4 separate regions of the Homo sapiens genome follow, and all the other regions are reported to be linked to region 1. Evidence: microRNA targets listed by miRTarBase, many of them from high-throughput screens and not tested one by one. Region 1 holds a microRNA gene; each other region holds the end of a gene's coding sequence.

Region 1 (7,854 bases):
CTCTGGGGACTGTCAGGAAGCAGATCAGGCCCTGGATGTCACCAATGCAGCACCAGAGGGGCCGACACACCAGCATTTACAGCAACTGTCTGGGTCCTGCTCCCAGCCCTGGGGAAGCTGCTCCCAATCAGAGAAACCAAGCTACCCATATAGACTCACAGCAGCTCTCACACTGGGCAGCCCTGAAGGCTGTGGGAGCCTTGGAAGGGTGAGGGTGGTATAGGGCACTGGCTGGCATAAGTGTGGATGCTGAACTTGGGCCACCAGGCAGGACGCATGCAGGGAGGCCAACACAAGGCACCTGGCAGCACCACCTGCCCTCAGGCTCAGCAACAGCTGGGGCCGGGGTAGGAGCTGAGTCCCTTGAGCAAGCCAGACCTGAAAGCCTTCCCCTTCCTGGTCCACCTCAGCTCCCCAGTTGTCCGATATCTGAGATGTGCGACCTGGCTGGTGCCACCTCCCTTCTTGTTCTAGAAAGAGGCTGAACTCAGAATGGGACAGTGACCAGCCATGTTCACCCAGCTGGCACAGGGATGCCCCCAGGCCTCATCAGACCTGACCCCTCCGACCCTGCCTGTTTCAGGAGGCAACGTCAGAGGAGCCCATTTCACTAAATGCCACTGTGTGGGTATGAGTCTGTGCCAGGGGCTTAGCCCTAGGGCCTGACCTCCCTCCTTGGCATCTGAGGCCCTTCACTGGGGCTCCAGCCTCCCCCCAGGCTCTGGGGAGGCTCAGCTCAGGGCTCAAACATGGCAGGCCTGTCCTTGGTGGGCCCAGATGCCAACTTTCAGGCTCAGCCACTCCGCCCGCCTCCCATGTGTGGACCTTCACTGTGCCACCTCTTCTGCCTGGGGCCACCTGAACTCCCGGCCTTCAGATAACCCAGCTCCGGAGTCTTCCCAGGCTCAGGGTGGCCTCCCTTCCTGCTGGTGGCAGTGCCTGGAGACAGATGTGGCTCTCAACTCAGCGCTGTTGGGGACGGGGGTGCTCCCTCTGGCTCACCCCCAACAGTTTTGCCAGATGCCGTTGGGGGCAGTGATGCTGACAGCTCCTTGGTGGTGAGCGGGGCGTAGGTGGGCGGGAGGCTGCCAGGCATGTCGCTGGCTCGGGACGATGGCCGGCGGTCCCGGCACGTGGCTGTGATGGGTACAGAGGCCCCCACACCTCCCCCGCAAACACACACACGCCAGGAGAGCGGGAAGCGCCCTGGGGTCCCTCCCCAGGATTGTCCTCAAACCCGAGGCTTCCACAGCCCAGAAGGGGTCACCCTATTCACAGCTTTGGCCTCGGAGGTGGGGGGGGGGTGCAGGCGGGGCTGGCCTCGGAGGTGGGGGCTGCTGCCACACGGTGTCGCTGTCGGGAAATGCACAGTCCGAAGGCGGGGGTGGCTGGCGGGCAGTGGCCCAGGCTGCCCAGGCGGGGCGGATGGTGGGGGAAGCAGGGCAGGGTGAGGGATCGCAGGCATTGAAGGAGGCACTGACCTCCCGGGGCAGGGCTCTCTATGGCTTCCCTGGCAGGGCATGTGGCCCTCCTGGGCCCTTCCTCCACAATTCACAACAAAATCACAAACCGCACCCATGACTGGGGTGGTAAGACACCCAGAACCCAGGCTGGGTTCGCGCTATATTCACCCCATCATCTACACCAGTCTATAATATACTCATTATACATTATATATTCAGTATTGGAGGGGTCATTTTCCCTTCCCGTTTTAAAAGAAATGGAAACAAGACTCTTTCTGGGCTCTCACCTCTGTGCCCCGTGCTGATGTGTGACCCAAGAAAGGCCCCCCGGCCGAGATGCTCCGTGTCTGCCACCTTGCTGGCCTTGTCCTAGCCCTGGCCCTGGATGGCGGCCCTGTCCCTCGGTGCTCAGGCTGCCGGGTTCAAGTGGTGGGCTGGCTTTGCATCCCTCCTAGGAAGGCCAAGGTCAGCGGTGGCCTACTTGAACCTTAGGGCCCAGGGGTCTCTCAAAGGGCCCACTCTGGACAGCCCAGGAGCCCCCTCGAGTCTCTCTGAGCCCTCATCTCCTCGGAGGACAGGGCCACGCCGACCTTTCTTCTGTAGGGTAAGGCTGTGCTCTGGCGGTACTGCCTGAGCTGGGAGGGGTCCGTGGCACGTGGCTCCCGCACAGCCCGGGAAGCTGGGGCCATCCTGAAGGTCCTTGGTCCCCGGCTTTCCTCCCTGGACTTTGTTCTCAAGGCAACTCATCCACATCCCTGGGCACTCTGATCTGGTATCAGCTTAAATCCTCATGGGCGCCCTGGGAGGTGGAAGCTACGGTGACCCCACTGCGAGATGGGAAACAGGTTTGGTGAGCAGAGTGACCAATCTAGGCCTGTCACCCCCAGAACTTCCACAGGCTGCCCTCATCCTATATTTTGGGCGAGTTTTGGCAACCCCATCTCTAGGGACGGCCAGTCAGCAGGGAAGGTTTTGGTCAGCTGGAGGGTAGGGAGGGAAGTGGGGTGAGCCAGGCATCACCTCCTCCAGGAAGCTGCCTCTGACTGCAGGGCTGGGTCCAGGGATCCTTAGGGTTCCCCAGCCCTTGGGCTGCTCCACTGTGATGTTGACCCCAACACATGGCCACTGTGTGTCCCTGGCAGCTCCCCGACCAGGCCTTGAGCTCTGCAGGGCCAAACCCTGCTCCAACTACACAGTATGGGGGCTGGGAGGAGAGGCTGGCTCCTCGGGACGTTCACAGTCTGTTCAGACACAGACAGGGGCTGCGGTGGCCAGAGATGGGTCTGAGCCGTGGACTGAGGGGTGGGGGAGCGGTGGTGAGCAGGAGAGTCCTGGTGGAGGTGAGCACAGGCATGAGGGAGGGGTGCTGGGAGGCAGTGCAGGCAAGGGTGTCAGCAGAGATCTGCTCCGGAGACAGAGGGGGCTGCTCTGAGACTCTGAGGCCTGGCAGTGGGAGTGGGGAGGGATGGAAATGGTGTTTAGAGGACAGAAGTGGCCAGATGTGGCTGCTGACTAATTATGGGGTGAAGAAGGGGATTTGGACAGTGCCCATGTGTCACCCACTCTGGCCCCAGAGGATGATGGGAGAAGGGACCATGGGGCACGTCACTCATCTCCAGCTGCAAACTCCTACGCAGCTGTCAAGACCCAGCTCAGATGGTCCCTGCTTTAGGAAGCCCTCCCTGCCCTTGGGCCCCTCCTCCACGTCCCTTTGCCCTTGGCCCACAGGGTGGCAGCAGCTCCGGGAGGGTAGGCAGGCCTGGGCTCTGAGGTGTTTGCCGTGCAGGACTGGCACAGATGGGTGTCAGGGTAGGGGTGCCGGTCTGCCCAGACGTGGCCATGCAGGGCTGGGGTTGCCTGCAGAACCAAGGCAGGCCAGGAGGGCACAGGGGGGAATCTGGGCCAAGATTGTGGCCTGGGTCAACAGGAGGGGCGAGGATGGGCACTTGGGTGGGGGAGGTGTGGGCCCAGCTGTATCAGCCCCTCCCCACCAGGGGCTCTCGGTGCTGGGCCAGGCATGAACAAGCCCACCCCACATGCCCAGGGCGGGATCACTGGGCCCAGCCTACGGCAGCTGCTAGACGAGGGCCTGAGGCCTCCCAGGAGAATGGGTGCACTTTTGGGATGGCAGTCTGTCAGAGGAATTACGGGTGCCCTGGAAACTGTCCTGAGGGAGGACGGAAGGACAGGCACGTCCAGACTTTGGTCAAGGCACTTAAGGCACGGAGGTGGCCTCAGGAGCCAGGACTTGGCAGTGCTCTGAGCTGCTGACCTGGGGCCTTGGTGGCTGCCCCGTGGGGACCTCTCCACCGGGCCTGGGTCCCGGTGTTCAGCCCGCCTGGCTCAAAGGCAGCACGAGAGGGCAGAGAACGGGCTGGGCCTGGGATCCTGAGCCCAGGGTACAGCACGGAGCCAACTGAGGACTCTGGAGGCACCGGGAGGCGTGAGCAGACAAGTCTCATGACCTGGAACAGCTCGTGGCCAGGGGCCTCCACACTGTCCCGCAGCAGACGCGCCCCAGAGCCCAGTCCCTGGGCTTCCAGAATGAAAGGGGCCAGTTCCAAGTTCATGGTCAGAACAGCTTTATTGAATCTAGCTCCCAGATGCCCACCCAGCTTCGGCTCAGGCCCCCTGCAGGTCACTGAGGTGGGGGGCAGCCCTCCCGTGGGGTCGTGTCACTGAGGTAGGGGGCGGCCCTCCCATGGGGTCGTGTCACTGGGCTCCTCAGGGAAGGCAGTAGGTTGTATAGTTATCTTCCGAGGGGCAACATCACTGCCCTGAAACCACACAACCTACTACCTCACCCCGCCAGGCCCGGCCTTGCACTGCGGGAGGGCCCGCCGCCCCCCGCCCAGCACCAGCCCCTGCCTGGCGGTCCTCAGTCACCAGAGCAGGAGGGCTGGGCAGGCGCAGGGCAGGAGGGACAGGGGAGATGGCACCCCAGGAAGGGGCAGCTGCTGCTGGCTGGTCTTGGGAAGTCCCTGGCTCTCTGGGCCTCAGTTTCCCCAGGTACAGAGGAGCCACTGTCTGCCTTCAGATTGTGCCATGTGGGACCCAGTGTATGCAGAGCTGTTCCTCTCACTTCCTGCTCAGGAAAGGTGCCTTGGCCTCCCTTCCTCCACAGGCAGAGGCCCTGCCACTGAGCTGGCCAGGCTGGGGCACGTGCTGGGAACCTGGGGTGATGGGCAACGCCAATACTCGCAGCCCTGTGACCTCCAAACGTCTCGGCCACCCCTGGCCCCACGGTGCCTTCTCCTGGTGCTCAGTGGAGGGTACGGCTCAGGGCCACCCATGAGCCTGGGCCTGATGGCGGGGGGAGTGTTGGGGAGTGTTGGGAGACAGAGGTCAGACAAACAGCTGCGTGGATCGCCTCTCTCAGTGCGGCTGGGGCAGAGGGTGGGGTCGGCTCAGCTCTCCTCTGCCCTCGATGCTCCACACTGCATCTCCTTCCATCCTCATTTGCCTCCATTTTACAGAGGAGGAAACTGAGACCCAGAGAGATCAGGGGCCTGTCCAAGGTCACACAGCAAGTGGCACCTAGGCCTGTCAGACTTCTCAGTGTAGGCGGCCCCTGCCCCCGACTGCTGCCAAGGCTGCCCCCAAACCTGGCCCTGCCCGCTCCCAGCCAGGGTTCCAGACGCTCTGTCCACCGCAGATATTACAGCCACTTCAGGAAAGACAGTAGATTGTATAGTTATCCCATAGCAGGGCAGAGCCCCAAACTATACAACCTACTACCTCACCCCAAAGGGCAGTCGGTCTTGGTGCCGATGGGACTCCGTGGCTTCCAGAGGCACCTCCTGGGGACGCGGGAGGAAAGAGGGCTGAGGAGAACAGGGGCTCGAGGCTCGGCAGGCCACACGCACCAAGGGCACAGGGATTCTGGCGGGCAGGCGCGGTGGGCGCAGGGGGCTGGGACGCCGAAACCCTGGGAGTGGGGACATTGTGGCCAGCACCAGCAGGGACGGGAGCCTGCAGGAAACCACCAACCAGAGAGGGACGAGGAAGAGAGAAAGGAGGAGGGAGGGAAAGCCCTGGCGGCATTTTGCGACGCTGTCACAGGCAGCCGGCTCCCTCTCATCTGGACAGGAGTGGCCATAATGTCCCCAAGGAACTCTGCACTGGAGACCCTAGGAGGAGGGCTGTCATCTGTCGAAGGCCAGCAAGACACAGGCATGCGAGTGCCCACCCTGCTCGGCCCCCTCCCTCCCCGCACAGCGCCACCAGAAGCAGCACTCGTGGCCCCCAGGCTGGCTGAGTAGCGGCTTCACGGGCGTGCCGTCTCCTCCCACTGGGCAGGCAGGCATCCCTCCCCAGGGGCCCTGGTTCTGGCCCTGCTGTGCAGGCTGGCCTGAGCTGACCGCACTGCAGGAGGTGGCGGGAAGGTTCTTTCCTTCCTTGAGGGAAGTGGCCTCTAGGGGAGAGCAGCTGGGGGGGTAGTCACAGACCCTCAGGTCCACCCAGGGTCCAGTGCCTGTCCCTGCGGGTGCTGGCACACTCAGTGCCCTAGCTTGGGACGCACAGGGCTGGGACAGAGTGTAGCATGAGGATGACACTGAGAGGGCCTCGGGGCTCCCCTAGCAGGGGAACGTGGCGAGAGACGGGCCTCCCTAAGCCCCGCCTATCCTGGGCCTGGTGCAGGGTCAGCCTCAACAAATGCTAATTGTGGCTACCACCTTCCTGGGGAAAAGCTGAGGGGGCAGATACGACTGTCAACCCCTCTTAAACAGGTGAGGAGACCGAGGCCCAGAGAGGCAACGTGACCTGGATGTCACACAGCCAAGGGGGCAGCAGAGTGAGGTCCAAATGTCCTGCTCCCTGCCAAGCTTTTTTTTTTTTTTTTTTTTTTTTTTTTGAGATGGAGTCTCACTCTGTCCCCCAGGCTGGAGTGCAGTGGCGCGATCTCGGCTCACTGCAAGCTCCGCCTCCTGGGTTCACGCCATTCTCCTGCCTCAGCCTCCCGAGTAGCTGGGACTACAGGCGCCCGCCACTACGCCCGGCTGATTTTTTGTATTTTTAGTAGACAGGGGGTTTCACCGTGTTAGCCAGGATGGTGTTGATCTCCTGACCTCGTGATCCGCCCGCCTCAGCCTCCCAAAGTGCTGGGATTACAGGCATGAGCCACTGCGCCCGGCCTGCTTCCTGCCAAGTTAAACGGCATGCTAGCTCTCAGCTCCCCATGCCCAAGTGGACTTGAAAGGTCTACCCCAGCCCTCCTTCCACAGCCCATCCTGAGCAGGCTGCCTACTCCAGGCAGGCCCCAGGCTGGGCTGGACCATTTAATCCTCACAGCCCTGGTAAGGCTGAGATCACGGATCCCACTTCATAGTGGAGAAACTGAGGCTCAGGGGGTGCTGAATCTCTAGCTCTAGGTGTCTTTGCTCTCAGAAGTTGGTCGGGGAGGGGGTCTGCTTGCTCTCTGGGCACGTGTCCTACTCCCTCCCGAGGGGCACTGGAGCAAATCCCAGGTCCTTAGCCAGCAAGGAGACCGCTGAGGCTCACACCTGGTGCCGCCCACCCAGAACTGGAGACTGAGATGCTGACTCACCCAGGAGTGGGGACCAGGAGGGCCCCGATGCAGCCCGACCCTCCTCTGTCCCAGCATCATCTCGCCTGGGGTCGCGAAGACCCCGTGTTCCCTCAAGGCCTCAGAACAAAAGCGGTATGAGAGGGTCTGGGGGTCCTGCTCCCCTGCTCCAATTCTGGGTCCCCTGGCTGGTGGGCAGGACCAAGATGTCCCTAAGGACTGTCCGGGCAGAGCCAGCCAGGGTGGGGTGAGGGCTGAAGGGACAGTGGCTGAGGGTCTCCTTGGACCCTCCCAGCTGTGGTGAGTGGCCGGAGGGGGAAGATCAAGGCCATCCCAGCTCCTCTGAGCTGAGGCTGACTCAGGCTGTCGCACACCTCATGATCAGCTCCCAGTCAGGTGGTCCACCCTGAGTGTCCCTGCGTCTGCCCCCATCTGCACCCCCGGGAGGTGCCTTGGGGGAGGCTGTGGGGTGGGTTGCACCCTAAGCACGCACTCTGGGCTCCTGACTTAATCTCTGAGACCCCCACCCCCTCAGGCTGGACTGGCCACCTGGGCTGGCTGGGTCCCCTCACACCTACTGGGTTCTGACTCATGGTCCCAGCAGGCTAAAAAGGGGGTGGGGCAGGACAGCCCAGTGGGCGGAGCTGTGAGAATCCAGGCCGGCCTCTGGGCTATGCTCTGGGCAGGTCTCATGCCCTCGTGAGCCGTGGTCTCCCCACTGAGGCAAGGGGTCAGCTGCCAGGGCCCCCGTCATCAGCCATCGGAGCTGGAGTGCAGGTGGGGACCACCATACTGATTCCAATGGCCCCAGCCTGGCCCCCACAGGTCCCCCAGGCCAGGACTTCAGCCTCCTAGAGCCTACAG
Region 2 (7,854 bases), not on the chromosome of region 1:
TACAGTATATGCTATTGGAATGTTTCAGAGGACTTGAGATTCACTATATTTATATGTTTGTCTCGATATATGTGAGTTAGGTATGGTGGAGGTGCTGTTGGTTGGCGTTGGTCTTCCCTGTGAGATATTAGATAGGCTTGAAAATAAAGCACATTAAGTGTATAAATACAGCTTAGAACGAAAAAATTCAGACTACTCAACGTGGCTAAGTCTGCTCACTAAAAGTGACTGTTCTTACTTCATACAAATTGTCTACATTTATATATCTAAAAATGAAATTTCTAAGTTGAACCTAAAGATTTATGAAAACTTAGGTTTTAAAATGTATACCAAGTGGAGAAACCTGGCAGACACCACCTTTACCAAATGATCAGTGTTAACAGCACCAAGAATGGGAATATGCCTCCTGGTATCACATGCTGAGGACACATCATTGTTTGTGTAGTATTCCTGACAAAAATGCATACCCTGAATCTAAACCATGAGAACACATCAGACAAACCCAAATTGATGCACATCCTACAAAGTAACTGTCTTGTACTCTTAAAAATGTGAAGGTCTTTGAAGACAGAGAAAGGCAGAGACACTGTTCCGGATCAAAGGTGATTAAAGAGATATGACAACTAAATGTCATGAAATCATGAATTAGAGTCCAGACTAGGGAAATATATATAATGATGAAAGACATCATTGGCACAATTGACAATATTTGGTTGAATATGGACTGTGGAGTAGATGATAGCTATATATAATTTTTTTATTTTGATAATTGTACTATGGTTATACAAGAGACTGTCCTAGATATTAGGAAATGTACATGATGTATTTAAATGTAAGGAGGCATGATGTCTACAACTTATTCTTAAAATGGTTCAGGAAAAACTATCATCTATTCATTGAGAGAACGATAAAGTAAATGAAGCAAAATGTAAACAATTCATTAACCTGGGTAAAGGGTATATGTGGGTTCTTTCTTTGTACTGTTCTTGCAATTTTTCTTTTGTTTCAGTTTTTCTTGTTTGAATTATTTCAAAATAAAGTTATGGAAGAGCTAAAATCCTGAATGTATATAAAATACACACATGTACATACACACATATGTACATATAACATTTAAACCTCAAGTTACTGTAGGTAACCTTTTCTGTACACAAAAGCTACTCTCAAACAAACATCCCCAAACTTTACACATTCACACAATATTGTTTATTATGGAATGTTGGGCATGCTGCCACTCTTGTGTTGTCAGCTAAGTCCATGAGATCACAGTACACTGACGTGCAAGGGGCATTGAAGAACATATTTATAGTTCCTACTCCAATGGCTTTGCTACTGTGGGAAAGAATTTGATTTGTGTCCTTCCTACACTTAATTTGAAGGCAAAGTCTTTGCAAGTGCGCCAGTGCCTGCCTTTGTATTCATTCCACCATTAGAGCATTACAAATTCAGGGAAATCCCATCGCAGCTCTACAGAACACATCCATTAGTCTTGGTGCTTTCTCCCAAACAAACACACATTTTGCTTGCCGGTGCATAATCTGTGCCAGCTCGATTCATTTTAATTTTTAACTGAATTAATTCTGTCTCTTCTAGTGTGTGCCAAGTATGGAATGGAAAACCAAATGCCCTCCTCAGAGTCATCCACACACAGTTGTCTTAGACGTGGTGAAGTATTGAAGATTCCTCAGTTACCTCCTTAAGTGTCACCAAAACAGCCAGTCTGGGTGTTTCAAACAAAGGTAGGTTCGGGTAATGGTGGGAAGGATAAATGATTTGTTTATTTAAATAGGATGAAAATTTTTCTTGGTATGTGTGGATGTCAAGGGAAGTGTTTCAATGTGGTAGTCACTTAGGTCAGCATCATCACCCTACTTTCAAAAAATTAGCAAGTGATTGATTCACAGCAGAGATGCCACATCTACTAACAAACATCATTTCTAATGAGATGGATCATCTCATCTCCTATTATTTCCAAAATCACTAGGATAGGCTGCACCTGGTGGACTTATGTTATTCCTTTGGCTCACCAGTATCTGAACACTGTTGGGGAACCCCGCCCACCCCATCCATGAACCTTGGGAATAGGTAAAGATAGATAGCCTCTCCCTAAGAAGTGCTGACATTGCTACCCACTTTCTCAGCTTCCTTTGCAGCTAGGGCAAGAAACAGAGCAGGGCAGGGGCAAAGGAGAGGTTCTCCCCATGGTGGTGGTTGACTATGGTAAGGGATTCTTCTTCCCCAGAACCAGTTGTGAGACATCATTTTAGGTGTCTCTTTCTTACTACTCACTCATGCATCCTCTTAGATGGTGACATTAAGAATAGAAGTGATATGAAATTCTCTTGAGAAGCAAAGTATGAACTGCAAACTGACTTAATTAATATACTTGTCATTATTAAAACAAAAAACACAACAAACAAACAAACACTATGACTATCAATCAATCAATCACTGCACAAAATGTATCATCTCCCAGTCTACAAATGCTTACCCCCTTTGATCCAGCAATCTCACTTCTAGGAAGTATCCCACAGATTTGTTTGTTTATGCACAAATGAAATGATGTAATGAGAAATGTGCAATATTGTTTGTTATAGCAAAAGAAAGACTGACAACAGACTACATATCCCACCAAAGGGAACTGCTTAAATAAAATATCCTATGAACATATAATGAAATATTATACAGCTATAAAAAAGAATGAGAAAGCATTTTATATATTTAAATGAAAAGATTTCTTGAGTCCATATTTAAATTTAAACAAACAAACAAGTAAGGTGCATAACTGGGTGCAGAGAATGCTATATCCTATGAAATAATAATAGGAAAAAAATAAATAGGAACATATATATTATTTTAACTGCTTATATAATAATTAATAAAGAAAGACCCTCTGGAAGACTAAATAAGAAATTAATAATGTCTACTCATAGAGCAATGAGGATGATTGATTGATATGGGGGAAGGGGTAGTTAGGAGTGTTTTCACTGTCTTTCTGGATTATAGTTTTTTACTCATATGCATGTATTACCTATTTAAAAAGTAAGTAAGTAAGTAACAACAACTAAATTAAAATAAAAACAAAGTACTGCAGTCCAGTCAATACTTTTTTGTAACATAACTGCGTGCTTTATTGAGATACACAGTAAAGCAGTACTATAATACAATAGTAAGGCATATATTTGGTGAAGTCTGATATGTTGTGAAAATGCAGTAAAACTGAAGTTTAAAAAAATAATTCGTAAATGTTACAGTGTTGGTGTTAAAACACAATATATTATGATACTCAAGTAAGAACTCAGTACCTGAAAACAATGACAAAACATGCCATGTGATGTTTATGCTTCAGTTACATTATGATTTACAGTTTAATACTTGGTGGTTATAAAGAACACAACACGAAATAATGTCCAAATTAATTATGCTTAAAATGCAGCAATAAAGCTCTCAATTTTTGTTCAAATATTATGACAGACTCACTCCAGAGCTAATGTGTCTAAAAGAAAAACAAAAAGATTAAAACAAAATTATTTATGCACTCTATTTACCTCTGATTTTAGAATGAAACTTACTTACTTAAACTTCTTAGTAGGATGTAAAGTAACCCCTTGTTTTAAATCTGAGTTTTAAAAATCCTTGGGTAAAGAAAAGGTCCAGCGTCACATAAAGGAAAAAAATGCAAGACAAAAACCAAATCTTCATGTAATTTGGTAATTTGTTACCTTAGAGCTTTGGGTTTTCTTTTGAAAATTATGAAGGAAAAAGAAAGAATTATAAAGGAAAAAGAAAATAACGCAATGGACAAGTGGTGAAGCTGTGAACTCAGGTGTGCACAATTATCAGGAACACCCCAAAACCAAAGTGAGGTAGAAATAGCATGAGAAGCCGTGTTTGATGTTAATTAATTAATTATTAATAATGGACAAAACCCACTCTCCAAAAGCTAATTACACTTGATGTCAGCCCACTCTCCAAAAGCTAATTACACTTGATGTCAGAGGTAACAGATTTGCAAAATTATAGGTCACACGGTGGTATCTATTGAATGAATGATTTAAAAATCAAAAAGAAATAAAATGGCATGAAAGAGTAAAGCTTTTTCCTACCAGTCCTTAGCTTTTCCTCTTGAGCTTTTCTCCTCTTTTTTGAGCAATTTTTGTTTGTTTGTTTATATATTTAACCTGTCTAATCCACCAAGAAGGGTTTTTTTGTAACATTTGAATCAATTTGCCTTCTTTCTTACTTACTTACAAACCTGTGTGGAACTACTCGCAGAGAAATGCAAAGGATGGAAACACAGTTCATGGGCTTCTGGGTTGATACCTGTCAGTATCACAAATGTGATGGGGCTACTGTTTTACACCTTTTCCCAAAGTTTATTTATTTTAAATTATGTCTTGTGGCATTTAAAAACTCATCCCACATGGGACAATAAATCTAAAAAAGCAACAAAAACCAAACCACCCAGTTCCTTTTGACTGTGAGAAGAGGGCATAATAATTTAGTTGTAATTACAGAGAACTTTATGTATTATGAACAATCATCCAATCCTTCACTTAAAGAGTGGCCTACTCCTTCACAGGGATGGGCTGGGAATCCATAGCCCTCCAGCCCTATCATCGTCCTGCTACTGCTTGGGAGTTAAAAAATACCTTCTGATGTTCACAAGGTCAGAATACCTTCTGATTGATTTCCACTGAAGCATCATTAAATCTAAATCGTGGCATTGCTAGCAGCAGGAAGCTGAATGTATCAATCAATCAATCAATCAACCAACCAACCGATTACTCACTCTGATATAATAAGTCCTGTGTATTCATTCACATGTTCCCTTTAAAAAAATCCAATACTTTACTTTACTTTCGTTGTCAGTGGAAAGTTGTTTAAAATGAGAAACATCTGGAGCTGTAGACAATGTTTTAGTGTGGTGTAGTTTCCTCCTGGCTTCCGGCTCCGGGAAAAATCCATTCTAGACCAAGCAGGTAAGCCTGGATGACTGACTAGAAGTAATTTCTTTCTATTAGGATGTGACATGAACATTTAAAAAATGGAAAAAGTCAGTCTATAGAAATTCGTATCTCTTTATCTATATAACTATAGTATTTATATACTTATAGACATATAGATATATGAAATGAAAACTCAAGCCTGCCCCACTCAGCTGACAGTTCTCAAATGAGCAGTGTGTAGTAGTCATTTGGTGTGGTGGTAGAGGAAGTCTTATCTTTAATATGCAAAAAAAGAAAAAGCCATGAATTTCATATGGATATCACGCCAAAAGGATGCAAAACAATGCGCTGCCTCAAAGTTTTGTGTGTGTGTGTGTATGTGTGTGTGTGTGTGTTTGTTTTGTTTTTAGGGGTTTTTATAAACAACTTTTTTTTATAAAGCACACTTTAGTTTACAATCTTTCTTTATAACTGTTATAAATTTTTAAACAACCCAAAATGCGTTCCATATAAAGAAATGGCAAGTTATTTAGCTATCAAGATTTTACATGTAGTTTTCTTATAACTTTTTTGTACAATTGCATAGACGTGTAAAACCTGCCATTGTTAACAAAACAATAACAGACTTAGAAACTACTGAAATCTACAGTATAATACCACTACCCTTCACAAAAATATAGATTTATTTCTTGTAAACTCTTACTGTCTAATCCTCTTTGTTGTATGAATATTATAAAAACCATGCGGGAATCAGGAGTTGTAAAACATTTATTCTGCTCCTTCTTCATCTGTCATGACTGATACTAAGGACTCCATCGCTCTGCCCAAATCATCTGCCATGTGGAAAAGACTTCCTACATTGTGTCCTGGAAAACAAAGAGAAAGAAAGACAGACTTTACAAAAGGTGCAGATAGATAGCATCACTCTGTTTCTTTGCCATTTGGGAAATCATTCCCCATTTCTGGGTGAAGACAACACAGAAGCTGCATCGAGGGTGTACACAACAAGGTTTGATTTTTCACCAGTTTCCAGGAAGAAGCAAAGCCTTATTAATGAAGCCATTACACGTTGTTTGTTAGTATCAGCTTAATGTTGGATCAGGCTACTGGTGTTTACATGGAAAAATGTCAAGCTACATTCAGGTTCCCAATGTAAATATATATCAAAAGAATTCCATAGATAAGCACAAGATTTCTATCAGAACAGGAATATTCCATGATGGGATACATCTTTTCCACCTTGGCTATGAGTGATTGATTGATTACTTACTCTCTACTTGTATTAACGAACATTTTTTTTACTATCAATCAAACCACCATCACCACCTTCACAACTACCACTACCATCACCAGCACCCAACCATCGTCACCATTATCACTGCCACCATCACCGCCACACCAACTTTTCATTTCAAAGCTGTTTCAGGCTGTTGGCTTGCTTCTGAGGCTATGGTGGAGGTGGCTATTTTCTCTCTGCTTTTACTTGGGTTGAAAAATAATAATAATAAACTCTTGAATTGACCTTTTGGTGCACTATTAACATTTGAATTAGGAAACCTCAGAATAAAAATTGCTTTACATTCCAAATTACTCTAGACCCTAATTATAAGGTGACCCACATGTATTGTATGCATTTGGGTATTTTGTGAATCCATCTTAGAGCTCCTCCTAAATGAGGGTTAACTATCACAATAGCCTTTTACTAATAATGCAGCACGACCTAGCACGAATCTCCCAGCACGGAGAAAAAGAACAGCACAATGTCCCTGGGTACTTCGTAGCAAAATTCAGATTTAGAGTAAGATAATCTGAGACTTACTTTATGGCTTGCCTTTTCGTCTATGTCCCATAGTTTTACATGGCTAATTTTAATTATTGCACATTGGTAAATCCTTCCACTATTCAAGTATTGTCTTTGGAACTGAAATGCTTTACTAGGCTATTACTACCTTGCCATGTATCAACTTTACAGATTCCCATAATAATTGTTAAAAATACCAATAAAAATTAAAGATATCCCAATAAAAATTAAAGCTATAGACTAGGGAGAGTATTTTGTTTTAATATTTATTTCAAGAGATATAGCTTCTCTACAAAATGAAGCGGATTCACGGGCAGGCACTTAAACAGTGATGGCACCAGATCAACTGAAGACTTACTTATTAAAAGTTTAATGTCATTCAGGCATTTCTATTAAGGTGACCAAGTTTGTATATCTATCTTTTTGTGCTTTATTAGTGCAAAGAATTTCATGGAGTATTAATTATATTTTAGAAAATCACTTTGGATTTTGGCTGAGACTGCAAGTATAAAAATTTTTTAACAAAGCATATGCAACTATTCATAAAGTGGGCCAATAGTTTGGCAGCCCTCAGTGAAGAACTGAAATCATTTTTGGCTTTCTGTGCCATAAAAACCACAGGAAGACGACACAGTGGGGCCTTTGCTGCTCCTTAGAGCTCAGAGTACAAATATATAACTGCTGCTATCAAGTTGGAGGGCTTCCCCTGTATCTATTTTTGGCTGTCCAGCAACCCTGGGAAATCTGCATAATTATTCATGCATAAATTGAAGATAGATGGACTAACTGCCAATTTTTAATTACTAGCGATCTTTACGGTTAACAAAATCAGTAAAAACAAAGTCCAGGACCTTTACAACATGGTGCCTGAATGTAATTCGAAGTATTTCTCATGGCCCACATGTGACTATAGTATGTAGTCCACCTAGTAGCTAGAAAACATATTACAAAACATCAACGAAAAGGGGAGAAAACTCATTTTTTTTCCTGTCAGCTTATCGATAATCACAAAGTGTCTTTCTTTTTAGGCTGTGTGCTAGGGGATGTAGATGGCAGTTCAAAATATAATAAAACAAATAAATGCATTTATGGATTATATAGCCA
Region 3 (7,854 bases), not on the chromosome of region 1:
CTCTTGGGTTCAAGCAATTCTGCTGCCTCAGCCTCCCGAGTAGCTGGGATTACAGGCATGCGCCACCATGCCTGGCTAATTTTGTATTTTTAGTAGAGATGGGGTTCCATCATGTTGGCCAGGCTGGTCTTGAACTCCCGACCTCAGGTGATCCACCTGCTTTGGCCTCCCAAACTGCTGGGATTAGAGGCATGAGCCACCGCGCCCAGCGCCCTCAATGTTCTTATAGTGAAGTAGAGGAGAGTGGTATAATGATGTAGGAATAGAGATATATATTAGGTACAGTGGTTTCACAAAGCAGGAAATGGACAGTGCAAAAGGGAAGGCATCGCATATTAGAGGTGCTACGTTAGGGCACATAGGGTAGTAAGAGTGCAACAGGAAAAAATGGAGGGGGAAGCATTCTAGGCAGAGGGTTGTGCCAAAGTTCAAAGGTATAAAACAGGGCCAAGTGCGGTGGCTCACGCCTGTAATCCAGCACTTTGGGAGGCCAAGGCAGGGCAGATCACTTGAGCCCAGGAGTTCCAGACCAGCCTGGCCAACATGGTGAAACCCCATCTCTACTAAAAATACAAAAAAAAAAAAAAAAAAAATTAGCCATGTGTGGCGTCATATGCCTGTAGTCCCAGCTACTGGGGAGGCTGAGGCGGGAGAATCACTTGAACCCAGGAGGCGGAGGTTGCAGTGAGCCAAGATTGCGCCACTGCACTCCAGCCTGGGTGACAAAGCAAGACTCCATCTCAAAAAAAAAAAAAGGGATTAAAACAGTATGGCTTACTGGCAAAATGGAGAATAGTGGGAAATGAAGCTGGAGAGGTAGGCAAAGATGTCATGGAGGGCCTTATGGGTTTGACCTTTATAGAAATAATAATAGCCACAACTTATTGAGCATTCACTTACCTTTAACTCATTGAATTCTCACAACAACCCTATGCAGTAGGTGTCATTATTTCCATATTATATATGAGGTATTGCCCTTTCTTATCTCCGTTTATCCTTTTAGCCTCATTTCTTACCCTTATCCCCTCATTTCCTATTCTCTGGCCACACCACAGTATTTCATGGTCCCCTTTCTCCCATCTCACTGTCTTTGCCCTTGCTGTTCTAACAGCCTAGAATCCCTTCCATCACTGCCTGTAGAAACTATTCACCCTTTAAGACCCAGTTTCAGTTCTCCTATTTAAAGCCTCACCACAGCCAGGTATATAGACAGTTGGTCCCATCCTCCTGCATAGGAAGGTGCTCTCTCTCTCATATCCCTATTTCCAAGAGCTTCTCAAGATCACAGCCACAATAGTAGAGAAATAAATTTTTGTGAACACAGAATTAGAAGCAGTTGGGTTTGGCTGGGCGTGGTGGCTCATACCTGTAATCCCAGCACTTTGGGAGGCTGAGGCTGGCAGATCACCTGAGGTTAGGAGTTCGAGACCAGCCTGGCCAACACGGTGAAACCCCATCTCTACTAAAAATACAAAAGTTAGCCAGGCGTGGTGGCGGGCGCCTGTAATCCCAGCTACTCAGGAGGCTGAGGCAGGAGAATCGCATGAACCTGGGAGATGGAGGTTGCAGTAAGCCGAGATTGTGCCACTGCACTCCAGCCTGGGTGACAAGAGCGAAACTCGGTCTCCAAAAAAAAAAAGCAGTTGGGTTTGAAATGTCATCTTGCTGCCAGTTCTCAGAAAACTTTTTTCCTTTTCTTTTGTAGCTAAACGAGTGAATGAGGTGATCGTGGGGAATGACCAGCTCATGGAGATCTGAGTTCTGAGCAAGTCAGACTCCTTCCTTTTGGCCTCCAAAGCCACAGATGTTGGCCGGCCCACCTGTTTAACTCTGTATTTATTTCCCAATAAAGAAGGGCTTCCAAAGGCATGCTGGAGACTTGTGGAGCAGTCCAAAGCTCCATGTCAGGTGGGCTCCAGGTGTACACAGTGTATGTTCATGTGTCATGTGGTAAAGATCATCTGGAGCAAGTGTGTGGGACAGGACAGATACAGTGGCCTAACTCTTGTGTGCCAAGATGTATCGGTGGGGCAGCAGCTGTCCAATGTAAAGCTCCTAGGAAGGCTACTTTCTGACTGGCTGACCCAACCCAGTCCTGAAAGTATCCCTCACCTAAAAGGACCTGGGAGTACTTCAGTCCCTTATCCTAATCAGCCTTTCTAGACCCATAGGCCTAGCTGCTGGCAGTGCCACGCCTGAGCATCAGCCCAGGACTCTGCTCCCATACCTACCATACAGATTCCCAGCCCCTTCCCCCACCTCACCCACAGCCCCACCCTCCATGCTCACCATTCACTCCCTCTCCTCCCAGCCTCTAGCCATTTTCCCTAGTTCAACTAATATCCCTTGGAGACTGAACAGAAGCAGGGGCAGCCCCTGCCTAGCCAACAAGCCTATTCCCACAGGTTCTAGTGGAGATAAGAACATGAAGAGCCATGGTCTGAGCCAAGCCAGACCCCGCTGCACCTCACCTCACTGAGGTTTGCCCAACCTGGGAAGGAAGAGCCAGGAACCTGTATCATGGCTTGAAATTCCTTCTGACTCTCCTCCAGCTGCACTCCTTTATATCCTAATTCTGCAGACTCTCCTGCTTCAGATAATTGAGGAATGAAATTTCCATACTCACAGCCCTTCTAGAGGCCTATCCACCTTCCCTCCACCACCCCTGCTCCCAAACACACATTCACTCTGCTCTCTCCCTGCATTGCTTTTACAGCCTGCAGGTGTTTGGTGGAAGATAAAAGTGGTTCCTGGGGTGAGATTTCACCTCCTAGAATTATCAAAGTAAAGGCTTCTCTTGATGTCTTCACTGTGGGTGGCAGTAATTAGAAAGAATTATTTGAAATACTGGTTTCTGCATTGCTTCAAAAACCTCAAGGCTCTCAAGTTTACTTGAGTAATCTTGCCTATCTTAGTCATAGAACTTGTGAGAGACTCCGTGAGTATTTCTACCCTGGGGGATCTCCACCTCTGTCAGCCTTCTTGAGAGCCCTGGTGCTCCCACTGGTCAGAACAAGGCTCCTGAAAGTTTGCCCTAATCAGGCAGGAGCTGAAATGGCCCGGCAGAAGTGGTTGAAACCAATAGGGCTGAGAGGGATGTGGGGATAAAGAGCTGTGGTGGTGCCCAACATGGTCCCCTTTGGAACTGAAATTAAATTGGTGGGGCCTAGATGGTGCTGGAGACAGAGTCCTGGCCTGGGTGGAAGAAAATCTGTCCTCTGTAATGTTGTTTGGTTTGGGTCAAATCACTCTCTCCTCTCTGACCTTGAGTGTTTCCATCTGCAAAATGAGAAAGTTCGACTGTTTGAATGTTAAAGGCCCTTCTGTTTCTCAGGTTTTGTCCTCTTTCCCAGAGCTTTCTTCCCCTTAGGGTCTCCCAAGGAGCCAGAAGATTGCTCCTTGAGCAGAGAAAAGGGTTGGGAGGGAAAGTGCGGTGGAGGAGTAAAGGGCATTGATTAAACTGTCTCAGAGCCCTCCTATGTACCCTTTCCTGTCCTTCCCCATGGAGCCCTTAGAACCCCTGACAGTGAGACAGAGGAAAAACCTCTCCTGTGCCTTCCCTTTGCACAAGTCCATGGAACGGCCTCTGCATCAAGGAAAGGAAGGAGCTGGAGAAAACAAAAGGTAAAAGCTTTCCCAGAGGAAGGTGTTGTTGAGTTTGAGTCCCAGCTGGGAGCAGCCCCCAGCTCAGGACACTGCTGCTATTGTCTGACAGTTCCAGGACTGGCTGGGTGCCCAAGATGCTTTGATTTTTCTTCTCTTTGCCCTGTTTGTCTGCCAGAAGGCAGGGACAGTTTTTGTTTTCTTTTGGTAGCAGCTACAGAGGGGCTGAGTATGTCTGAAACATAGTGAGCAACTGAATGTCCACTGGCCGGCCACCTCTCCATGGACAGAAATCAGAAAAGCAAGGCAGGCAGAAGAGTTAATAGGGTCTGCCCTGCCTCTCCCAGTGATGCTCAATGAGGGAAGTGGAGGAAGAGGAGAAAGGGGACCTCGAATGCCGAATCAGGGAGGACCCTGGGGATGTGCTGAGGAACAGGGTTCCGGGAGCTTGCCGGGTCAGACAAAACTTGACAGCTGCTACTCCAGGAATCCATCCCCCAGTTACAATTCATCCTTGCCTGCTGGCAAGAGTTCCTTGAGCCGAGAAGACTGCCACTACCCAGGATGATTGCATCAGGGGCCTTCTGCCATGGATAAATGGGGAGCTGCTGCATTGGTTCTTAGCCTCTCTCCTTTCCCCATACTTGAAGTGAGGGCCCATAAGCTCCTGTGAGCCTATAAGACTGCCAAGATTGCCCTCCAAGCTGTTCCCCAAGGCCAAAGGTCGAACTTCTTCCCAGTTCTTCACTACTTTACTATTACCATCCCACTTCCATACTCAGTGGAGAGAGGGAAATTGTGTTTAGCTGTAGCCCCAACAGGAATCTAGGGCCTGCATGGCCTAGTTGAGAAGTTGTTTCTATTTCCAGAGAATTGCAGGGGATACACTTTCTTTATCCACAGCTATCCCTACTCCTAAGGAGGTACATAAACCAGGCCTTTGTATGCAGCTTTCTAAATAGTTAAATGTGTCTGAGGAAGGGGGAGGCCCATGGAAAGGACCACCCAGACAGAAAGTCTAGAAAGCTCTGCTCTAATGAAGCTGACCCAGAGGGAGAGAGACTGGGCAGGAGAACACATTCTACTGGAAGCCAGTATGACCTGTCCTTGGCCTGAGCCATCTGCCACTACCCAGGATGATTGCATCGGGGCCTTTCTGCCATGGATAAATAGAGAGAGGCTGCATTTGTTCTTAGCCTGTCTCCTTCCCCCACACTTAAAGTGAAGGACCATTCCCTAATCTCTGGCTGCAGCCCTGGCACCAAATACTTGATAGGTACGCCAGGCGCGGTGGCTCACGCCTGTAATCCCTGCACTTTGGGAGGCCAAGGTGGGTGGATCACCTGAGGTCAGGAGTTCAAGACCAGCCTGGCCACCATGATGAAACCCCATCCCTACTAAAAATACAAAAAGTTAGCCCGACGTGGTGGCGGGCGCCTGTAATCCCAGCTATTCAGGAGGCTGAGGCAGGAGAATCGCTTGAACCCAGGAGGTGAAGGTTATAGTTAGCCAAGATGGCACCACTGCACTCCAGCCTGAGCAACAAGAGCAAAACTCCATCTCAAACAAACAAATACTTGATAGGTGCTATTGGCCTCAACCTGCCCACAGGGAAGGAGCATACATACCCAGGCTTGGCCCCTAAATATAACAGGTGGTGATGGGGCTGCCCAGGACCCCCACTTCCCTCCTCCACATCTCAGGGTCATTGACTCTGCTTGGCCTAGATAACAGAAGCAGCCAAAAGCTGGCGAGTGAGAAGCCTAGAGGAATGCCAGAGAAAGCAAGCCTGCCTTGCCTCCACCATGAATTAACTCCCACATGAACCCACCCCTGAAGCCAGACTGGTCACTTTACCCAGCACTGTGTGTATGTGAGTGTGGGCTGCCTCACTTTTCCTGGCACTGTTCCTCAGCCATATGTATTATCTCATTTAATCCTTATGTTAATGTCAGAGATTATGTGACTTCCCTGAGATCTCACAACCAGCAAATGAAAGATCCAGACCATGAGCCATTCCTTTTCCTTTTAGATTCTGTCATCCTCCCACCTCTCCCATCCAGTTCCTTTCACTTCTGGAAACATCCCTGAGTACCCCCAACTCAGTGGTTTCCCCTGTGGTCTCTGTGCTCCCCCTCAGGCTATGAACTTCTAAAAAGCAGGTACCCTGCAACACCAGAACCCAGCAAAGGAATGGACACATAAGAGATCCCAAGGCTGGGCGCGGTGGCTCATGCCTGTAATCCCAGCACTTTGGGAGGCCGAGGCGGGTGGATTGCCTGAGCTCAGAGTTCAAGACCAGCCTGGGCAAAACGGTGAAACTCTGTCTCTACTAAAATACAAAAAAATTAGCCAGGCGTGGTGTCACGCGCCTGTGGTCCCAGCTACTCGGGAGGCTGAGATGGGAGGATCACTTGAGCCTGGGCAGTAGAGGCTGCAGTGCACCAAGATCATGCCACTGCACTGCAGCCTGGGTGACAGAATGAGACCCTGTCTCATTGAAAAAATTTAAAAAAAGGAGATCCCAAGACGTTTGTTTCATGAGTCAGTAATGAGATTTAATTAGATTGCTTTTATCCTGTTATTTGGAGAATATCTCTAGTTTAGGCCCAAAACACGTACCCAGGACCAGTGGAAATGACAGTGAAACAAGCTGTTCTATCATAAAGGAGGCTGCTTGCAGAAAGAGAAGAGAAGCCTCTTTATCCCTTCCTATTCCTGGGGTCTATGGCTTTGGCTCTGGCTGAGCTTAGCTGGGCTCAGGAAACCATTTTGTTTGGGAGAAGACAGGTCATTTTGTAGCTTGGAGCAGCCAGACAGCACTAGGCCCTAGGTTGGAAAGGCTGGAAACTGTAGACCCATTTCTTCCATCCTAGTCTTTGAACTATAAGGCAAGAGGTTTCCTTAATAGACAGACTTGGCCTTGGAAGCATCCATAGAAATGGTGGACTTTGTCACAATTGTTAGCAGTGATGGGCCTATGATGAAAGCAGAGTCCCAAGGCCCAAGTGGTTACAAATCTATTTATCCATGGACCTTATGTCTTGCAGAGTCTGGTAAAAAGGAAGGAGATTAAGACTTACTTAAAGCATAGCATCGGGAGTTGTACTCCTGATGACAACCAGTGCTGAGTCCAGGCCACTCCCTGTCTTCAGCTATTGCCCCAAGAGCAAACTAGGGGCCCATACAGACTTAAGTTAGAGGCTGTTTCTATTTCAGAGACTTGCTAGGGGTACAGTTCTTTTTAACCTTAAATTTTTTATGTTATCATTATTATTGTTTTTTGAGGCAGGGTCTCACTTTGTCGCCCAGGCTGGAGTGCAATGGCACAATCACAGCTCGCTGCAGCCTCTATCAACTCTCCTGCCTCAGCCTCCCAAGTAGCTGGGACTACAGGTGTGCGCCACCACACCCAGCTAATTTTTTATTTTTTGTAGAGATGGGGTCTCACTATGTTGCCAGGGCTTGAACTCCTGGCCTCAAGCAATCCTCCCGCCTCAGCTTCCCAAAGGGCTGGGATTACAAGCATGAGCTACCATGCCACTTTATGCTCAGCAGGACACACTCTATAACAGGGAGAAGAAAGTGCTATTCAGGTAGGCTGCTTTTCATGTGCAGTTACTGTTTGGCCAACAGCATCATACATATATTAGTTCCTCCATAGGCATTTTTCTGGGTGAATGGACAAATGGAAATGGCAAACCTGTTAGGTGTTCACCCCTTCAACCTAAATGTTCCTCTTCCCCAGGACTGAGGCTCTAGAGATGATGTTAATTTGCACAAGCTTTCAAAAAATCAGTTGAGCAGTGTGTATCAAGAGCCATAAAAATGTTCATACTCTTTGACCCAAACAACCCACTTCTGGGAATCTGTCCTAAGGATATTCTCCAAATGATTGATTACAAAAACTACATAGTAACATGAAATATTTATGATGGAATGATTTTTTTTAAGTCTGGAAGAACTGACCAAGAAATTTGCCAGAGATAATAGTAGTTGTGTTAGAAAAATTAGCTTATTGTAGATTCATTTTCTCTTTCTCAAACTTTACATATTGGAATATTGATTTTACCCTACTCTGCCACTTGAGGTTTATCAATCAGGAACCCAATAGAAACAGCACACTCAGATAGGATAGTTGAAAGTTTAATAGAGGGACTATTGCCTCTATTCTTCCCAATTTCCAATCCTTTACACCCTGAATTCTGCAACTCTTAGTGACTCACTCAACAATTATTAAGCACCTATTTA
Region 4 (7,854 bases), not on the chromosome of region 1:
TCTCCCCCTTCTCCATGTGCTTCTGCAGTTGGAAGAAGTGAGGGGGGTTCAGACACACTTAAGCTGAGCTTAGAGCAAAGCATGTCCCTCAAGGTGACCTTGCCGCATGGCCTGAACCTAGAATTCCCCTGACCAGGGTGGACAGCCATCACCATGGGCCTTTCTGCCTGGCCTAGTATGGCTCTCCTTCGAACTCACCTAGACCCTTGCATCAAAGGACTCGGGGACTCTGCTGCAGTCATCCTAGCACGGTCGAGAGGAGTAGGAAGGTGCCCAGCGGCTCAGCCTTTAAGGAGGTCTATTGGTCACCATTGCTTCTGCCTTCTTGAGAACCATCACCCTCGGAGGATCCGGTAGTGTATCCCAGTCAAGTGTCAAATGCGTTGTTCCCTGGAGAGGAAGGCTTATTTCCAGAAAGTACTCTGACGTTTTGTAATTTGTGATTTCTATCACTGGCTCAGTGGCCTACCCACTGCTCAGCTCATGTGGCATGACCAGGCTGGGGCGTCGGGTCATCTTGTTCTCTGGGTGTGTGGCAACACTGGTTTATGGCGTAATTTCCTTCCTGAGAAGAAATTCAGTAATTTCTAATATTCAGGGCTTTAGGTAGAGGCCTGAAAATCACTCTCCATGCCTCTTTCAGTATTTTATATATAGTTGTCTCTTGGTATCCATGGGGTTTGGTTCCAGAATCCCCTGCAGATACCAAAATTTGCGAATGTTCAAGTCCTTTATATATAGTGGCATAGTATTTGCATATAACCTATGCATATCAGCCAATCATAGATGGTGATTTAAATCATCTCTTGATTACTTCTAACACCTAATACTATGTAAATGCTTTGTAAGTAGTTGTTACCTGGCATTTTTTTATTTGTTTTATTTTTGTTGTTGTTTCATTAATTTTATTTTATTTTTGGAATATTTTCAGTCCATTGTTGGTTGAATCCACAGATGCAGAAGCCTTAGACACAGAGGGCCGACCACACCTATGTATGCTGTTCTTAAAGTAGCAACATATTTGTTCTGAACATAGAAGAAATTAGTCGTCTATTAGACTTTAAGGGAGTAAATATGGTCCAAGTTGATTTTTAAATTTAGCAAATAGTCATAGACATATCAGTGTCTTACAGAAAATATTTATTGGAATGCTCACTCTCTCATTTGGGATACTGCTTTGCCTTGCTGTGTCTTAAGAATGTCATCAGAGCATCACACACTTGAAAAACGTTTTTAAAAGGATATGATGATAATTAAGACCTTCTCCCCAACCCCTGCCCATTATCCAAGATCAATGTTTTTTTCCTTTATCCTGATTTTAAAATCAAGTACACTTTATTGAGGCATACTTTACATGAAGCAAAATGTACCCTTTCTAAATATGATAAGTTTGATGAGTTTTCAACAGATGTATACAGCTGTTACCATGACTGTGTCTTTACCCAGGTTCTTGCATTGCTCAATCCAGATACAGAATGTCTCCATCACCCTGACAAGTTCCTTTGTGCCGCACCCTCTAGCCAATCATCTGTTTTGAGGAGAGTTTTAAAACAAAGGTTTTTGTTCTTTTTCACTGATGACCATAACCTACCACAGACAGGGTCTCTCTCTCTCTCTCTCTCTCTTTTTCCCTGTTCTTGCGCCAGCTGCCTGACAATTTGTGGGATTAAAGCTCTAAGCTGCTTACTGGCTCTTCTGACTAGGGAGAGGGAGCAAGCCTCATTATTTTTCTATTCTTTTCAGTGACTGCTCACTCCTCTTCCTCCAAAATCCCTATCCATCCATCCATCCATCCATCCATCCATCCATCCATCCATCCATCCAACTTTCCATCTACCCATCTATCCTTCCATCTATCCAATCCACTTGCGTGTTGAACGTCTACTATGAGCCATTGGCTACCAGGAATCCCACTTCCACCCAAATTATGTTTCAACAGGGAAGACAAACAATTTAACAATTACGATAAAAAAGAAAATATGCCATACAATGGAAAAGAAGGGGGCATGATGGGAGACCCAGCGGGAGTAGCTGGCAACGATTCTTAGGGGGAAGAGACATTCCTAATAGACACCTGCAGGAGAAATATTAAAGAGTCAATCATTTCAGTAGCGCTTATTGTGACCAATAATGCAAGAAGTTTCTGGGTTCCCAGGCTGATGGGTTTGAAAGTCACTGCATCATGAATGTGCCCAGGACCCACACGTTGTTTTGTAAGAGAGGGGTTCAGTAAAATGTGAAATGACCGACATTCAACAGGCAGAACTGTGCAGAATGCACGCTTTGCCACTGATTGAAAGTGTTTCTTCAGTAGGTTTTGATAGAATATATTACTAATCTGGTAAGAAACAGCTTAGGGCCACTCAAGAAAAGAAAAGCAGCCCCTAGAAACATGTTCTGTGGCTGGGCACAGAGGTAGCTGCTGGAATTTGAACAGGGGTGAGCAGGACCTCGTGGACCTCATTGTGGGGTTAGCAGGGCTGGGCTGGGACAATGAGATCATTTTCTAGGCAGAGAAAAGACAACATGGTAAGTTAAAAACACTGAAAAGTCTGCGCTGCCAGAGTACAAATGTCAGCCAGGAGGGCCCTGACACTCTTGAAAGAGGGATTTGAGCAGTGGCCACTGCATCTACTTGGCACTCGTTCGCTGTGTAGAAGGGTCACCGAGTCCCTCATCAGAATCCTGAAAGAAGGAGAAACGGTGGGCACAGGCAGCACACCTCAATCACTTGTGAATAATTTCCTTCTGTCTTTCATAAACATAGCTATGATTGAAATGACCTTTCACGAACAGCAGGGAAGGATTGTGGAAGAAAATGAGGTATGTGAGAAGCAAATCCATCTACCTGATTGCCATGTAACTTTCGGTGAGTCACGGAGTGAGAATTTCAGATGTGAATTAAGGATTGCCAAGAGTGGTGATATACTTGAAAAGTTTCCTCCACGTTCTACTCCCTGTTCTACTTTAGAATCAGGAGGCCAGAGAGGCAGGAGGGAAGAGTACTTGTTATTCATAGTGGACCTTCTTCCTGAATAATTTTTAGGGTAATTATGTATGCAGCTTCCACCTGAGTCACTGACCTTTGGGTGAATGTTACTGGATATGTACCTATGATACCCAGGCAAACTTTCTGCGGGTTCTACGGGCACTGTGAAGTGTGACAGACTTTGGCTGCGCGTTCACTTTTGATCATAACACGTCCATAGAGTGCTTTTAATCTCCTGCAACTTAACATATGAGAAAATCGATTTATTTTGTAGTGAGTTCTGCACATTTCACAGAAAATTAAAGCTCTCTGAAAACCCAAATCTTCTGTGGGCAGTAATTCACACACAATATTCTGGAAATGTAAAATCCCAAATGCCTGCTGACTTCAAATCAATGTTTATAGCTTGTGTCTGAATAGCTCCATGAATTGCTCCGCTCCTCTCCTTCTACTGCCCTTCGCTTTGATTTAGCCACTCATTTCCAGGGGCTGATTTTCTTTTTTTGCATGGCCCTAAGCTGTTTCCCATCAGATTAGTAACATATTCTATCAAAGCCTATTGAAGAAACACTTTCAATCAATGGCAAAGTGTGCATCCTGCATGATGCTGCCTGTTGAATGTCGGTTGTTTCACATTTGACTGAACCCCTCTCCTACAAAGCAATGCGTGGGTCCTGGGCACATTCATGATTCAATTACTTTCAGGCCCATCAGCCTGGGAACCAGAAACTTTGTGCATTATTGGTTTTACAATTTCAGCTGAGGCTTCCACAGAACAACTCAGAAGAAATAGGCTGTCCTGAGTGAGCCTTTTCCTTGACTTGTATTTTCTATTCTAAGGTCTATTGGCTTCACTGGCAGTGGGACCACTGACTTTTTCCCTCCTTTATCTAAGGGGACCTGTTGAGAGTCTCTATTTGGAAATATTTCCTGCCTGTCCTTAGTGGGGGTCAATGCCTGAATCTGTCCAATAATCAGATTTGACCAACTTGGTGGAAGTGTGGATTTTCCAGCACGATTAAACCTTGAACATATATGGCTTGAAAATGTGCAAATACTCTTGGAAATGACAGGATCATGGTTCTCAAGACAGAGAAAAAAAAGTAGCATGTGAATTTTCATAGATAAACGCCTAATGCTAATGTTGATCAGGATTAATGTCATTTCCTAGATTTCAGCAAATAAACACTGGGTTACTTAGGCCTTTGTGGGCTTCCCAGGAAGGTCACCACCATTTGAAATGAGACTTTCAGGGGAAAAGCTGCCAGAGATTAAACAGAAGGCTTACAGATGCATCTTCTGAAGATAACTTAGTATCTTCCATGGACATCTTTTCTAATAGAAAAGAAAGCTCTTCAAATGACCAAAACCATTGCTGTTTTGTGGAGGTGCTGGTGAACAGGGGTTTCATCACAGTAGCATCTACCTGTACAAACGAAATACTCGAAGTTCTGATTTCAGTTTTATCCATTTTCTTCTTTTGCAAGTGATGCATTCTTAGTGTGGTGGACTCTCCATGAACCACAGCACAGAATTAGGAGTTTCTAAGCTCAAATTGACAAAGGATGTCTCCTTCTGAATTTAAAATGTTTAAAAAGGTTTAAAAGCCTTTTAAACTGCAGAATTTAGAAGGTTCACAGATTTATTCTAGAAATAAAATGACAACTTTTCTGTAAGGAGCATACTGTGCCCATTTATTATAGAATGCAGTTAAAAAAAATATTTTGAGGTTAGCCTCTCCAGTTTAAAAGCACTTAACAAGAAACACTTGGACAGCGATGCAATGGTCTCTCCCAAACCGGCTCCCTCTTACCAAGTACCGTAAACAGGGTTTGAGAACGTTCAATCAATTTCTTGATATGAACAATCAAAGCATTTAATGCAAACATATTTGCTTCTCAAAGAATAAAACCATCTTCCAAATTTCCAAAGCATGCATTGTTACTTGGCATTAAGTATTTCAAAATGACAAACATTGTTACGGTATTGTAAGGCCAAAATATAATACCTATTTACCAGACATACACATTACAACTAGAAAAAAATTACAAATGTTAACCTAGTATAACAATTCCATCAGGAATGAATGGGGAAAGGCACTGCATCCCTCTCATATCGCCACAGATCTACTATCCACTTGACATGCTTTGAATTCAAGTCCTGTTAGACATGGGAACAGCTTTTCCTACAACATATGATTCACAGGTAGGTTAATACATCTTAGTCTCCCACTGCCATACTTTTCACCCAAGTGTACAACAGGTATGAATATATGCTATCAGCTTTATTTACAAGTGTATCTTGATGTCTTCGTGGGGTAAAAGAACCAACTATCTCAACCAACAGTTTCCAAAAAAGTTTTTGGCTATGATTCATGTATAGAAACCACCACATAAAAGAAACAACAGAAACTGAGGTCCGATCCCAAACACCTAAACTAAAATTTCTCACCCACTAAAAGTTGGCAGTGAAACTGCTATTCTCTGAATTGTATAAGCTAAATTCTACAGAGGAATTTCAGATCAACTTCTTTTGCAAAAGCACAAGTTACACGTTGCACGGTTGGGGATGCTGAGTGAATGCATTCCAGGAAGAGTTCCGCAAGCAAGTGCTGTTGCAAAGAGTCGAGAATCCGAGAATCTGGGAAAGGTGATACGTTTTCCAAACGCTTTCCTGGCTTCCCAAAAGATGTAAAACAACAACGGTGTAACTTTATATACGAACAAAGGTTAGTCTTGTAAATCAGTAATATACATGCACAAACATGAGAACATGAGGGAAGAAAGGAAACGCTACAATTTCCACATTGCATTGCTGCTGTTTTCACAACCTCTCTGCACTAGGCGGCTTCCTGTGGTACCTCTTCCTACCAGTAGAGAGTGGCCCCTGCAGGCCACTTAGAAACAGGAAGCTCTCTCCTGAGCTCACTGATCAACCTGCCCTTGGCACAGACAGAACCTACCAGAAAAGAACAAGTACAAAACACTATCATTATCTGTTTTCTCAAGACAGTCCCAAATGTCCTTGTGCGATCACCACAAACTCAGTGATTGGCCCAAGTCATTCCCGGGTGCCATGAACAGTAACTGGTGTGCAGCATTAGAACAAGGGGACACGGCCTTGATTCTCTTCTGAGCAACATGAACTGGGATTTCTGCCACCCCGATCTCGGCTGCCACCTCCGAAGAAGTCGTGACCAGCCACCTCCACAGTAAAAGATTCCTCCCGTGAGTATGATTTGGAATGCGTCCTCGTCGCGTGCCAGTTCAGCTGAGGTGGATCGGCGTGTACTCCGGCCTCCTGGTCTGGATAATTTTTGGCTTAGGTCTCCTCATTCTTTCCATTTCCTCTTCTTCCTCCTTCTCTTGATCACTCTCACATACATGGACCACCACGCTGGGAGTGGTGTCAGTCGCTGCGTGCAATTCATACTTTTCCCCTAAGGAGGGAAAATAATCGCAGGGTCACTCAGACAAGTCCTTGGGAGTCAAAAGGCAAACATAAAAGAGCATTCAGGGCTCTGCTGGGCCAGCTGCTCGTGACCATTCGATTGGGCTGAGAGACACAGCCAGACATATTTTGGGTTTGTATTTCTTTGCTAGCTCATTCAGAAAAAGAGAGATTTCCATTGTGCATGACTCTGTTTTTAGTCAAACATTCTGGGAGTCCAGGCACATGAGAAGTATAGAAGGAATGCATTTTTCTAGTTATACTTCACATGTCCACCAGATATCTAAACTACCCAGAGAACTCCCTTTCTGTCAGCATTTCCTCAAGTGTGAATGTGAGAAACTTCGGTTCAGGAAAAAGATGGATGAAGAAACGTATTTGGAAACAGAACCCTGGGCCTCCCTCATGCAGCTCCTATTTGAGGGTCGCAGTGCACGCCCAGGAAGGGCGCCACAGGAGGCCCTGCAGCAGACGCAGGGGTGGCTGCACGGAGCCAGGTGCTCTGGAAACGTTTTTGACCTGGGCATCTTTTCCTTAGAACAACTTCTAATCCCCGGGACCAGGAGTGTCCTGCTGTTCTATGTCAGCCTGAGTTCTACCAGGTTGGCCAAGTTCAGGCCACTCTGGTCCAGCAAGGGTGGGGAGAGCTTTCTGCAACTGAAAAACCCGGCAATGTAGAATGAAGGGACTGGGGCCTCCCGCTGGGGTGCCGCTCTGGCCACGGGAAGAGTGTGCATCTCTGGTGCTCATGAAGGCAGCTCTGAGCCTGGCTCCTTAGTACCCAGGGCTCATGGGCACTTTATTCTGCTTCCCTGTGCACCTCAGTTCCCTCCTCAGTAAAGGAGACGGTAAAGGTATTGACTTCATGGAGCTAACAGCATGAGTGAGTGCCCGAGGCAATGAGAACCCGGCTCACCACATGCTTGTCCAGCCCATGTCACCTAGAAAGATGTTTAAGAATGGAGACTGCATCGTTATTGGTGCCCTGCTGGGCAGGGATCTGAAATAGGGGCAGGAGGTTTGCTTCAACCTGCTCCACCCACAGGGTGTGGCCTCATGGTCAGTTTTCTTCCAGGGCTTTGTGCTTGGGATTTCTTTTCTTTTCTTTTTTCTTTTTCTTTCTTTCTTTCTTTTTTTTTTTTTTTTTTTTGAGACAGAGTCTTGCCTGTTGCCCAGGCTGGAATGCAGTGACAAGATCTCGGCTCAGTGCAACCTCCGCCTCCCAGGTTCAAGTGATTCTCCTGCCTCAGCCTCCCAAGTAGCTGGGACTACAGGCGCATGCCATCATACTCAGCTAATTTTTGTATTTTTAGTAGAGACGAGGTTTCACCATGTTGGCCAGGATGGTCTTGATCTCCTGACCTCGTGATCCGCCTGCCTCAGCCTTCCAAAGTGCTGGGATTACAGGCATGAGC

The links. The annotated mature microRNA hsa-let-7b-5p reads UGAGGUAGUAGGUUGUGUGGUU and lies in region 1 at 4,245-4,266, opposite strand. An mRNA with a match to its seed (bases 2 to 7 or 8) in the 3' UTR can be bound and repressed. Matches are read on the target gene's strand: a 7mer-m8 pairs with bases 2 to 8, a 7mer-A1 pairs with bases 2 to 7 and ends in A, and an 8mer does both.
Region 2: miRTarBase lists DMD as a target of hsa-let-7b-5p. Seed matches in the 3' UTR shown: 8mer at 3,863-3,870.
Region 3: miRTarBase lists EIF2B3 as a target of hsa-let-7b-5p. The part of its 3' UTR that is shown has no 7-base or 8-base seed match.
Region 4: miRTarBase lists RCAN1 as a target of hsa-let-7b-5p. The part of its 3' UTR that is shown has no 7-base or 8-base seed match.

What each region holds. Positions count from the first base shown.
Region 1 is chr22:46,110,103-46,117,956 of GRCh38, reverse strand. MIRLET7B (microRNA let-7b) reads right to left here and starts at 4,271; the gene lies at 4,189-4,271. It overlaps LOC124905135 (collagen alpha-1(III) chain-like), which reads right to left. Exons shown (of 2, transcript XM_047441696.1): 2 at 4,029-7,854. It overlaps MIRLET7BHG (MIRLET7B host gene), which reads right to left. Exons shown (of 5, transcript NR_110479.1): 5 at 4,029-7,854. MIRLET7A3 (microRNA let-7a-3) reads right to left here and starts at 5,208; the gene lies at 5,135-5,208. It also overlaps MIR4763. RefSeq lists an enhancer at 6,647-7,180.
Region 2 is chrX:31,116,116-31,123,969 of GRCh38, forward strand. It overlaps DMD (dystrophin), which reads right to left. Exons shown (of 79, transcript NM_004006.3): 79 at 3,107-5,815. The coding sequence ends at 5,804. Among named protein-coding and RNA genes, the nearest start is that of FTHL17, 48 kb to the left of the region's middle.
Region 3 is chr1:44,844,855-44,852,708 of GRCh38, reverse strand. It overlaps EIF2B3 (eukaryotic translation initiation factor 2B subunit gamma), which reads left to right. Exons shown (of 12, transcript NM_020365.5): 12 at 1,706-2,187. The coding sequence ends at 1,758. Among named protein-coding and RNA genes, the nearest start is that of PTCH2, 5.5 kb to the right of the region's middle.
Region 4 is chr21:34,511,829-34,519,682 of GRCh38, forward strand. It overlaps RCAN1 (regulator of calcineurin 1), which reads right to left. Exons shown (of 4, transcript NM_004414.7): 4 at 4,614-6,428. The coding sequence ends at 6,256. It overlaps KCNE1 (potassium voltage-gated channel subfamily E regulatory subunit 1), which reads right to left and starts at 382. Exons shown (of 4, transcript NM_000219.6): 1 at 199-382.